Linked DNA regions of Homo sapiens: region 2 is linked to region 1. Evidence: fine-mapped expression QTL. A gene starts in region 1. The other region holds a variant in brackets. All regions are shown on one strand. Distances are between the middles of the regions.

Region 1 (5,303 bases):
GTGGGCAACACTTTCCTATAAGCTGCATCTCTCTCTGGATTCTAGTAAACATTCCTTCCTCTATCCCTTTCAAGCCTAAGGCTTCCTGCTGTTGCTAGTCCTATCTCTTCACACTGTTCACACCTTTGTAAACAGTCCCTTTATTAAGCTTTCCTCTAGCACCCCCTTAAGAATGCCATTTTTCCTCTGGTTGACCTTGACTGGATACACTGGTGTCCAAAGACTTACCAGTGAGCCTTTTTATCAGAAAACTATTGGGGGAAGTTCTCCACTAAAACAAGAAGACACAAGATTGAGGCAAAGGGAATCTTCTGAACAATGGTGAAAGATCACAGGATGACAGCTGTGTATTCAGTTTCAGAATAACCAACTCAGAATGGAGCAGGCTAGAAGGTTCTTAAAGGTGTCTTTAAGAAGGTAAAATTGTTAAAATACCTAACAAGGAGTTTTACACAGCTGGGACGGGAATTTGAAACTGAATTAAAGACATGGAAATCTAAGCAAATGAAAAAGAAGATGGTTGGCCGGGCGCAGTGGCTCACGCCTGTAATCCCAGCACTTTGGGAGGCCAAGGCGGGTGGATCACCTGAGGTCAGGAGTTTGAGACTAGGCTGACCAACAAGGTGAAACGCCGTTTCTACTAAAAATACAAAAATTAGCCAGGTGTGTTGGCAGGCACCTGTAGTCCCAGCTACTCGGGAGGCTGAGACAGGAGAATTGCTTGAACCCAGAAGGCGGAGGTTGCAGTGAGCCGAGATCGCACCAATGCACTCCAGCCTAGGCGATGGAGCAAGACTCCGTCTCAAAAAAAAAAAAAAAAAAAAGAAAAAAGAAAAACAAGATGGTTATTAATTTTAGATGTAAGAAAACATTGGGCAATAAAGAAAAAGCAATCATAGTATAGAAAACAGGTCAATTATAAAACAGCATTTATGCAACAAAAATTCCAAGGGACTGATGAATTATTTCCTTTTATAGACTTCCTCATAATATATAGCTTCCCTATTTTTGTAATGTAGAGGTTTTCACAGAAGGTATTTACCAGAATAGCATCTAAAATTACGAGGACATTTATTTTAACATGGTTTGGCCTAGGTCATTTTACAGACTAGACAGTAAAAAATCTCAGCTTATCTATAAACTTCTGATCTGTGTGACCTGGGGTAGGTTACTTAATTTTGCTGACCCTTACAAAGTATGAGGATTGCAAATACAACACACAGAGTGCCTGGCACATAGTAGGCATTCATAAATGACCACTTTTGTCAGCCACCTTAATGGAAGAATGCTGGATAGGGATATTATAAAACCACAAGGAATACAACTTTGACCTCAATTTAGGTGGGTAGTTGAGCATCTGGAAGTCATGAGGTGTTGAAGCCTGACACTATTATAAAAGTAAACACTTCTCAGACTAAGCAAATATGATATGGAACTGACAACAAAATTGAGGGGAAAATGCTCTGAGGAAGATGACTGAAAGAATAAAGTACAGAGTAAAATGGCTTTCAGAGGGGCCAAGAGCAGTATACAGCTCTCCTTTAGAACAGTAACATAAAGACTCAGCTTCTCCTGGGGGTCTCCATCCTGCTTTGTGCCACAGAAAGTGTAGGACTACTGGGGAGGGTTCTGGTTCCTTTCTTAAGTATATAAACAACAAAATCAAAAGTTTTATTTTATTTATTTATTTATTTATTTAGTGACAGGGTCTTGCTCTGTCATCCAGGCTGGATTGCAGTGGCATGATCACAGTTCACTGCAGCCTCGACCTCCTGGACTCAGGTGATCCTCCCACCTCAGCCTCCTAAATAGCTGGGACTATAGGCACACACCACCACGCTTGGCTAATTTTTTGTAGAGCCGGGGTTTCGCCATGTTGCCCAGGCTGGTCAAGAACTCCTGGGCTTAAGCAATCTGCCTGCCTTGGCCTCCCAAAGCGCTGGCATTACAGGTGACAAAGAATTTTAGCTCCAAGAGTTCTTTAGGCCCATCACTTCTAGAGGTTGGTCAGATATTAATGGTGTGAAAGGTAAAGAAAGTCATTGATAACAATTAACATGTGGTAAGCGCTTAAGATTTGCCAGTCGTTATTCTAAGCCATTTTACATGAATCATCCCGTTTAATCTCAATAACAACTCTAAGTTCTTTTATCCTCATTTGACAGATAAGGAAACTGAGACTCACGGAGGTTAAGTAAATTGCCTAAGGTTACACAGCCAGTAAACTCGAAGAGCTAGACCTGAACTCAGATTTGCCAGCCTCCAAAGGCTTCCAGACTTCTAACCGTAATGCTAATATATAGCAAATAGTCTTTAGTTGTGGATTTTCTCACTAGCATAACAGCATTGATCAGGCCATATTCTAGCAAGTGATTTTCAAATATGAAGTGACAGAGATAACATACAAAGGCCAGGCAATTTTAAGCAAATGCTCTTACAGGTGTACTAGGACAGAGCCTTAAAACCAATGACTCCTTCTAAACATGGAGTTCAGACATTCAAATACCTTTACCTAGTAAAGTTCTAATAGAAAAGGAGTTATTTTAGGGCTAGTATAAGTCCATCCATGTATTCCCAGTGTCAACTGTGCTCGACGTAGTAAGTGTGGAATCAATGTCTAGTGACCGGTTAGATGACCCGCATAGTGGATCTTTTCAAATCTCACATGGAGGATCTCATACAAAAACATTAAGAACATTAAAGCAAGCCCTGACAATAATTTTTAAAAAATAACAGTCTATTTCCAGGGTAAACAATTACTTTGTCACGCCGCTGCTTAGGGGCTCGGAGAACCTGCTTCTGATGTGGGTCCAGGTTGAGGAACACTTCGCCACTTGAGAACGCAAATAAAGTCCAGAAATCCAGGACCACAGCAATACTCCAGCCCAGGGTTGCAGGGCAGCCTCTTTACCAGCCGGGCGACCCATTTCTATCTTGGCGCCGGCGAAGCGCCGGTTTGGGCGGGGGACCGCTCTCAGCCTGAACAGTGGGTGGGCCGGCAATGACAATGCAGGAATTCCGCGCAGGCCGCAGGGTTTGGGGACCTGTCTGAAGGGTGGGAGGGAGCACTTTTCACCTGACACACCCAACCCCCCTGCCGCAGCCCAGGGCCGCGGATGAGCGGAAGGAAAGCACTTCCATACTGTCAGATCACTGGGCTTCAGTTGCAGCATAGCGGCCCACCCCGCCGCCCGCGTACGCTCAGCCCCTCAGCGCCGGCCAGGCAGCCACGCACGCGCAGTCCGTTCTCGCTCGCTCCATCAGTCCTGGCCCGGCCCGGGGCCCCGCCCCCGCAGGCCCCGCCCCGCTCCCGTGCGCTGAACGCCCCATATCCGGGTTCCCGCCGCCTCCACCGCCACCGCCTCAGCCGCCTCGCACATTTAGTCTTGCCGGGAGTGGTGTGATTCCCGACCAAGATGGCGGCCGTGGGGCGAGTCGGCTCCTTCGGTTCTTCTCCGCCGGGATTATCCTCGACTTACACTGGCGGCCCCTTGGGCAACGAGATAGCGTCGGGCAACGGTGGCGCCGCGGCAGGCGACGACGAGGACGGGCAGAACCTTTGGTAACGACTCCACCTCTCCCTCAGCCCCCGCTGGCTCCCCCGGCCTTGCGCGGACGCCTCGGGATCCCGTGCCCGCTGGAGCTCGGCGCCGGGCCCGGCCACTGCGTTCCCGGCAGCCCCATCCCCGGCGCGCCGAGGCCGGGTCCGTCCCTCCCGCGCTGCGGCTCCGGCCTCCGGCCTCACCGTACGCCTTGCTTCCCGTTAGGTCCTGCATCCTCAGCGAGGTCTCCACCCGCTCGCGCTCCAAGCTCCCTGCGGGGAAGAACGTGCTACTGCTGGGTAAGTGTTCCCTGCCTCGCCCCGCCCCGCCCGGCCCCCAGCGGCCCGGGGTACCTGGTCCGCGGGCTAGCTCGCTGGCTCTCTTTGTGCGGACAGCCGGCCCAGCCCCGCCCCGCCTCGCCTCCCGACCTGTCGCGGATGGCTGGGAGAGAAGGGGAACACGAGACCCTTGACCCAGGACCTGCGGGGACCCGCCCTCCCTCAGGTTCCTCCTCCTCCTCCCCGGTATATGGGGGTGGCCCTGACAGCTTCCCCTGGGAAGGACAGAATTCGATCGCTCATCTGAGGGATTCTCGTGGCCTGGGGTTTATCTAGAAAATGACAGGTTTTCTTTCATCACAAAAATTGGTAGCAGGAGGCTCTTTGCGAGAGCTGCAGCGCAAATGGCATGCCATTAATATTTAATAGCTGACTCTTTGTATAATTGACAGAAGCTAGAACTAAGACCTGGCGATAAATGTTCTTGATTCAGCGTTCTCTGGTACAATGTGCTCGTGTTGCAGCTACCTTAACTGTCACATATAATTCTGAAATTTGTAAAGGGCAGTAGAACACAACTTTCTAGTTAAGTCTTTTCAGCCAAATGGATGTAATAAGGAGAAACGGTCCAGTGTCAGTTCTCCTGATTGTTCTGTATCTCCTCGGCTCTCTGGAAGTTGTGTATTCTGTTTCTTTAGTGACTCTGGGGGTGGGGATAGAGGACTGAGGGAGAATAGTTCGCAGATTCGCATTTTTCTAGGCTTAGCTCCTGAATCATTTATAGGAGAAATTTCTCTATATAGCTCTTTACATGCGAGATAACTGAAGTTTGGCTTATACGATGATTAAATTTAAAAACTTTGGTATTTGGTGTCGGCTCAATACCAGAGTTTTTTGTTGTTGTTGTTGTTGTTTTGGTTATATCCATCTAAAAACAGGAAACAAGAAGTCAAATACTACTTGATAGGCTGCGTGGTTAAATATGAATGTTTACATAGAAAAAATTACTTTTTTAATAGACTGCTGCCAAGCAAGAATATATGATTATTGATATTCTTTAAAGCTACATGGAGCTAGTTGAAAAATTAGTTTTTACCCTTGTTTTTAATGTGGTTGAAAGCACCTACTGAAGATTAGCCTGGATTGAGTCACTGCCCTATCACATATAAGCCCTAGGATCTTAAGCAAGTTGCTTGACATCTATAAACCTCAGTTTCTTCATCTTTAAAATGGTTGTTATAGAAATAATAATACTTGCCTCTAGGGTTGTGGCGGGAATCAAATGAGTTAATGTTTGTATCGTGGTAATATTTGCAAGTGATACTTTGTCATGGATTTATCTTAAACTGCATTAGAAAATATTTGTGATCAGAACTTTTTAAAAAATTGAATTAGTGCCTACATAAGTGATATTCATAGGGCAAAAATAAATTAGGATCCAAAAGCAAAAAAAAATTGTATAATATATTTTTAGTTTACTAAT
Region 2 (5,379 bases), 54 kb after region 1:
GACTCCATCTCAAAAAAAAAAAAAAGTGAATTTTATGTGAATTATATATAATTTTTTAAAAAAGAATTTCCATGACTTACCAGCAACATGAGAGTTGCAGTTGCTCCACATCCTTGTCTACACAAACTATTGACTGTCTGCAGTTTTAGACATTCTGCAGATGTATGGTAGGATCTTGTGGTTTAAATTGTGTTTCCTTGATAACTAATGAAGTTAAGCATATTTCATGTGTACTGGCCTTTGGATATCCTCTTTTGTAAAGTACTTGTTTAAGAGTCTTGTCCTTTTTGGAGGCGGAGGGGGCGACTGTATGACTTTTTCTTATTTATTTATTTTTTTAAGACGGAGTTTCGCTCTTGTTGCCCAGGCTGGAGTGCAATGGCGTGATTTCGGCTCACCACAACCTCTGCCTCCTGGGTTCAAGCGATTCTCCTGCTTCAGCCTCCCAAGTAGCTGGGATTACAGGCATGAACCACCATGCCAGGCTATTTTGTATTTTTAGTAGAGATGGGGTTTCTCCATGTTGGTCAGGCTGGTCTTGAACTCCTGACCTCAGATGATCCACCTGCCTCGGCCTCCCAAAGTGCTGGGATTACAGGTGTGAGCCACTGTGCCTGGCCTGACTTTTTCTTATCGTCTCATTCTTTTTCCGTCCTTCCTTCCTTCCTTCCTTCCTTCCTTCCTTCCTTCCTTCCTTCCTTCCTTCCTTCCTCCCTCCCTCCCTCCCTCTCTCTCTCTCTTTTTCTTTCTTTCTTTCTTTTTTACAGAGTCTCACTCTGTTGCCCAGGCTGGAGTGCAGTGGTGTGATCTCGGCTTACTACAACCTCCACTTCCCAGATTCAAGCGATTTTTGTGCCTCAACCTCCTGAGTAGCTGGGATTCCAGGCATGCACCACCACACCTGGCTAATTTTTGTATTATTAGTAGAAATGAGGTTTCGCCATGTTGGCCATGCTGGTCTCGAACTCCTGACCTCAGGTGATCTGCCCACTTCAGCCTCCCAAAGGGTTGGAATTACAGGCGTGAGCCACCACACCCAGCCTTGTCTCATTCTTTACATATTCAGAATACTGCTTCCAGTCAGGTATGTATTGCAAATATCTTTTTCTACTCTGTGGTTTCCCTTTTCACTCTTATTGGTGTCTTTTGATGAATACAAGCTACTGATTTCAATATAGCTCAATTTATCAGCTTTTCTTTATGGTTATTGCTTTCATAACCTGTTTTTAAGAAGTCTTTGCCAGCTGGGCATGGTGGCTTACACCATAGTCCCAGCACTTTGGGAGGCCAAGGTGGGAAGATCACTTGAGCCAACTTGAGCCAAGGAGTTTGAGACCAGCCTGGGCAATACAGTGAGACCTCATCTCTACCAAAAATTTAAAAATTAACTGGGCATGGTGGCATGAGCCTGTAGTCCCAGCTACTCTGGAGGCTACAAGGAGGATCACTTGAGCCCAGGAAGTAGAGGTTGCAGTGAGCCATGTTCACGCCACTGCAGTGCAGCCAGGACAACAGAGCAAGATCCTGTCTCAAAAAAAAAAAAAGGCCTTTGCTAGCCCCAAAGTCATAAAGATATTCTATGATTTCATTTTTCTATGAGCTTTATTGTTTCACATTTCTACAATCCACTTGGAATTGATTTCTATGCATAGTGTGAAATAGGGGACAACATTCATTCTTAAAATGCAAATGTTCATTTAATCCAATGCCACTGTTAGAAAAAAAAAAACCAAAAAAACCATCCTTTCTTTACCATTCTGCAGTGCTATCTTGGTCACAATTTGACTGTTTATTTATGCAAACATCTATTTCTGGGCTTTTGAACCAATTAGTCAATTGCCACAGAAATTCTGGCATTTTTATTGGGATTGCATTGAGGATAACAATTTGGGGATAAATGTTACTTCGTTTTTGTTTTTTTTTTTTTTTGAGACAGAGTCTCGCCCTGTCGCCCAGGCCGGAGTACAATGGTGCGATCTCGGCTCATTGCAACCTCCACCTCCTGGATTCAAGCAATTCTCCTGTCTCAGCCACCCTAGTAGCTGGGATTACAGGTGCCCGCCACCACGCCCAGCTAATTTTTGTATTTTTAGTAGAGACGGGGTTTCACCATGTTGGCCAGGCTGGTCTCAAACTCCTGACCTCGTGATCTGCCCACCTCAGCCTCCCAAAGTGCTGGGATTACAGGCGTGAGCCACTGCGCCCTGCTGATAACTGTTATCTTTACAACATCGCCAAACTATGCACAGAATAGTCTTCCATTTATTATATATAGGTTTTTTTTCAGTTTCTCTTAGCAATGTTTGTAGTTTTCAGTGTGTACTCTTGTGTCTCCTTTTCGTTGCTTTTTGGGAGAGTATTTGGTTTTGATGGTATTATAAAATAAGATCCTTCTAAGATTTCTTTTTTTTTTTTTTTTTGAGACGGAGTTTGGCTCTCTTGTCACCCAGCCTGGAGTGCAATGATGCAATCTCGGCTCACTGCAACCTCTGCCTCCTGGGTTCAAGCAATTCTCCTGCCTCAGCCACCCGAGTAGCTGGGATTACAGGTGCCTGCCACCACGCCTGGCTAATTTTTGTATTTTTAGTAGAGACGGGTTTCACCAGGTTGGCCAGGCTGGTCTCGAACTACTGACCTCAGGTGATCCACACTCCTCGGCCTCCCAAAGTGCTGGGATTACAGGCGTGAGCCACCACACACGGCCTAAGATTTCATTTTACTTTGTTGCTCATATATATAAATACAGTTTTCATGTTGATTTCATCCAGCAACTTTACCTCCATTTATTTTATTTTATTTTTATTTTTTTGAGATGGAGTCTCCCTGTGT[C/T]GCCCAGGCTGGAGTGCAATGGTGCAATCTCAGCTCACTGCAACCTCCACTTCCCTGGTTCAAGTGATTCTCCCACCTCAACCTCTCGAGTAGCTGGGATTACAGGTGTCCGCCATCATGCGTGGCTAATTTTTGTATTTTTAGTAGAGACCGGGTTTTGCCATGTTGGTCCGGCTGGTCTTGAACTCCTGACCTCAAGTGATCCACTCGCCTCAGCCTCCCAAAGTGCTGGGATTAGCTACTCAGGAAGCTGAGGCAGGAGAATCGCTTGAACCCAGGAGGAGGAAGTTGCAGTGAGCTGAGAGATCACGGCACTGCACTCCAGCCTGGGCAACAGAGTGAGACTCCGTCTCCAAAAACAAACAAACAAACAAAGTGCTGGGATTACAGGCGTGAGCCACCACACCGGGCCACCTCTTCATTTATTAATGTAATGGTTCGCCTGTAATTTATTTTGGATTTTTCTACCTGTAGTTATGTAATCTGCAAATAATGACTTTTATCTCTTCCTTTGTAATGTCTTCTTGTTTATTACACCTATACTTCAATACAGATTATTATAGAACTGGTGAGAGGAAACATCTTTAATTGTTCCCCATCCCAGAGTAAAAACTTTCAATATTTCACCATTAAGTATATTTGCTGCGTGCTTTCTGTAGAGACTCTATCAAAAAAGGAAGTACTCTCAGATGAGAACAGGTCCTGGCAAAAAAAAAAAAAAAAAAAAAAAAAAAAAAGGAAGTGCTCTTTTTCTGTTGTTATTTGTCTGAGACGGAGTTTCACTCTTGTTGCCCAGGCTGGAGTGCAGTGGCGCAATCTCGGCTCACTGCAACCTCCGCCTTCCGGGTTCAAGCAATTCTCCTGCCTCGGCCTCCCGAGTAGCTGGGACTACAGGCATGTGCCACCACACCGGGCCAATTTTGTATTTTTAGTAGAGATGAGGTTTTTCCATGTTGGTCAGGCTGGTCTCCAACTCCCGACCTCAGGTGATCCGCCCACTTCAGCTTCCCAAAGTGCTGGGATTACAGGCGTGAGCCACTGCGCCCCACCTGGAAGTGCTTTTTTTCTAGTCAGTTTATGCTATGAGTTTTATCATGAATGGGTGTTTAATTTTATCAAATGCTGTCTTCATCTATAGAGATTATTTTCTTTTTTTCTATTAATGGTATGAGTACCTTACCTTTTTTTTTTTTTTTTTTTTTTTTTGAGATGGAGTCTCCCTCTGTCCCCCAGACTGGAGGGCAGTGTTGCTATCTCGGCTCACTGCAAGCTCCGCCTCCCGGGTTCACACCATTCTCCTGCCTCAGCCTCCCGGCAGCTGGGACCACAGGCACCCCCCCCCATGCCCGGCTAATTTTTTGTATTTTTAGTAAAGACCGGGTTTTACCGTGTTAGCCAGGATGGTCTCGATCTTCTGACCTCGTGATCCGCCTGCCTCGGCCTCCCAAAGTGCTGGGATTACAGGCGTGAGCCACCGCTCCCGGCCTACATTACCTTTTAAAATATTAAGCCAGCCAGGCGCAGTGGCTCACGCCTGTAATCCCAGCACTTTGGGAGATCGAGACAGGCAGATCACGAGGTCAGGAGATCGAGACCATCCTGGCCAACACGGTGAAACCCCATCTCTACTATAAATACAAAAATTAGCCGGGCATGGTGGCGGATGCCTGTAGTCCCAGCTACTCAGAAGGCTGAGGCAGGGGAATCACGTGAACCTGGGAGGTGGAGGTTGCAGTGAGCTGAGATGGTGCCACTGCACTCCAGCCTGGGCAACAGAGTGAGACTCCGCCTCAAAAAAAAAAAAAAAAAAAATTACGCCACCTTTGTATTCCTGGAAAAACCCCTATGCTGATCTTAATATATTAGTTGTATTGTATTCCTGATTTTGATTTGCTAACTTTTTTTAGAATTTTGCATTATGCTCCTGAGAAAGCCTAACCTGTAATTTTCATTTCCCCTAATGTTTTTGTCAGTGTTTTTTATCAATATTATGTTGACTTCATAAAACAATTCTGTTTGTGTTCTTTGTAAAGAGTTCATGTAAGATTGCTGTAGTACCTGTCAAATTTGTTTCTGTAGAATGATCAAATGTCACTTTATAAATCCCCTCATGGAACTGAATAATGAACCAAATGGTAATATCCACTATAGTTTTCTCACTTGGGGGCTTTCATTTAGACAGAAATTACTAGCTGTCTAAACTGGCAGAATCCCAGAATATGGGAGTTCTTCCTTCATGTAACAGTTACTAATGTTTTTACTAAATAGATGTTCCCCATGCTGAAATAAGATTGTAGAAAATGATGCCAGCCAATTCCTGCTGAATGTATAAGACTTATCCTGTGATCATTATCATTTTATAAAATTATAGGAAAAATGAGTGAATATTTCATTATAATAGGTTAAACTTTAATAAACCCTAGGGAGAAATTCAAGCTATGTATAGTATAGGATAATTTGCTAGAATTCTCACCTCTTCTTTCTTGAGCCACGTGGCCTAGTAAATGGCTAAGACATATGAATACCTTATTTGGAAACATCCCGAAGTAT

Evidence for each region. PIP is the estimated chance that this variant, and not a neighbour inherited with it, causes the effect.
Region 2: its variant is fine-mapped to the expression of DYNC1LI1 in whole blood (TOPMed, PIP above 0.99).

What each region holds. Positions count from the first base shown.
Region 1 is chr3:32,568,884-32,574,186 of GRCh38, reverse strand. DYNC1LI1 (dynein cytoplasmic 1 light intermediate chain 1) reads left to right here and starts at 3,329. Exons shown (of 13, transcript NM_016141.4): 1 at 3,329-3,562; 2 at 3,768-3,841. The coding sequence starts at 3,417. RefSeq lists silencers at 3,132-3,391, 3,572-4,061 and an enhancer at 3,336-4,121.
Region 2 is chr3:32,514,722-32,520,100 of GRCh38, reverse strand. No RefSeq gene overlaps it. Among named protein-coding and RNA genes, the nearest start is that of MIR548AY, 11 kb to the right of the region's middle. The variant C/T (reference allele first, on the strand shown) is at 2,830.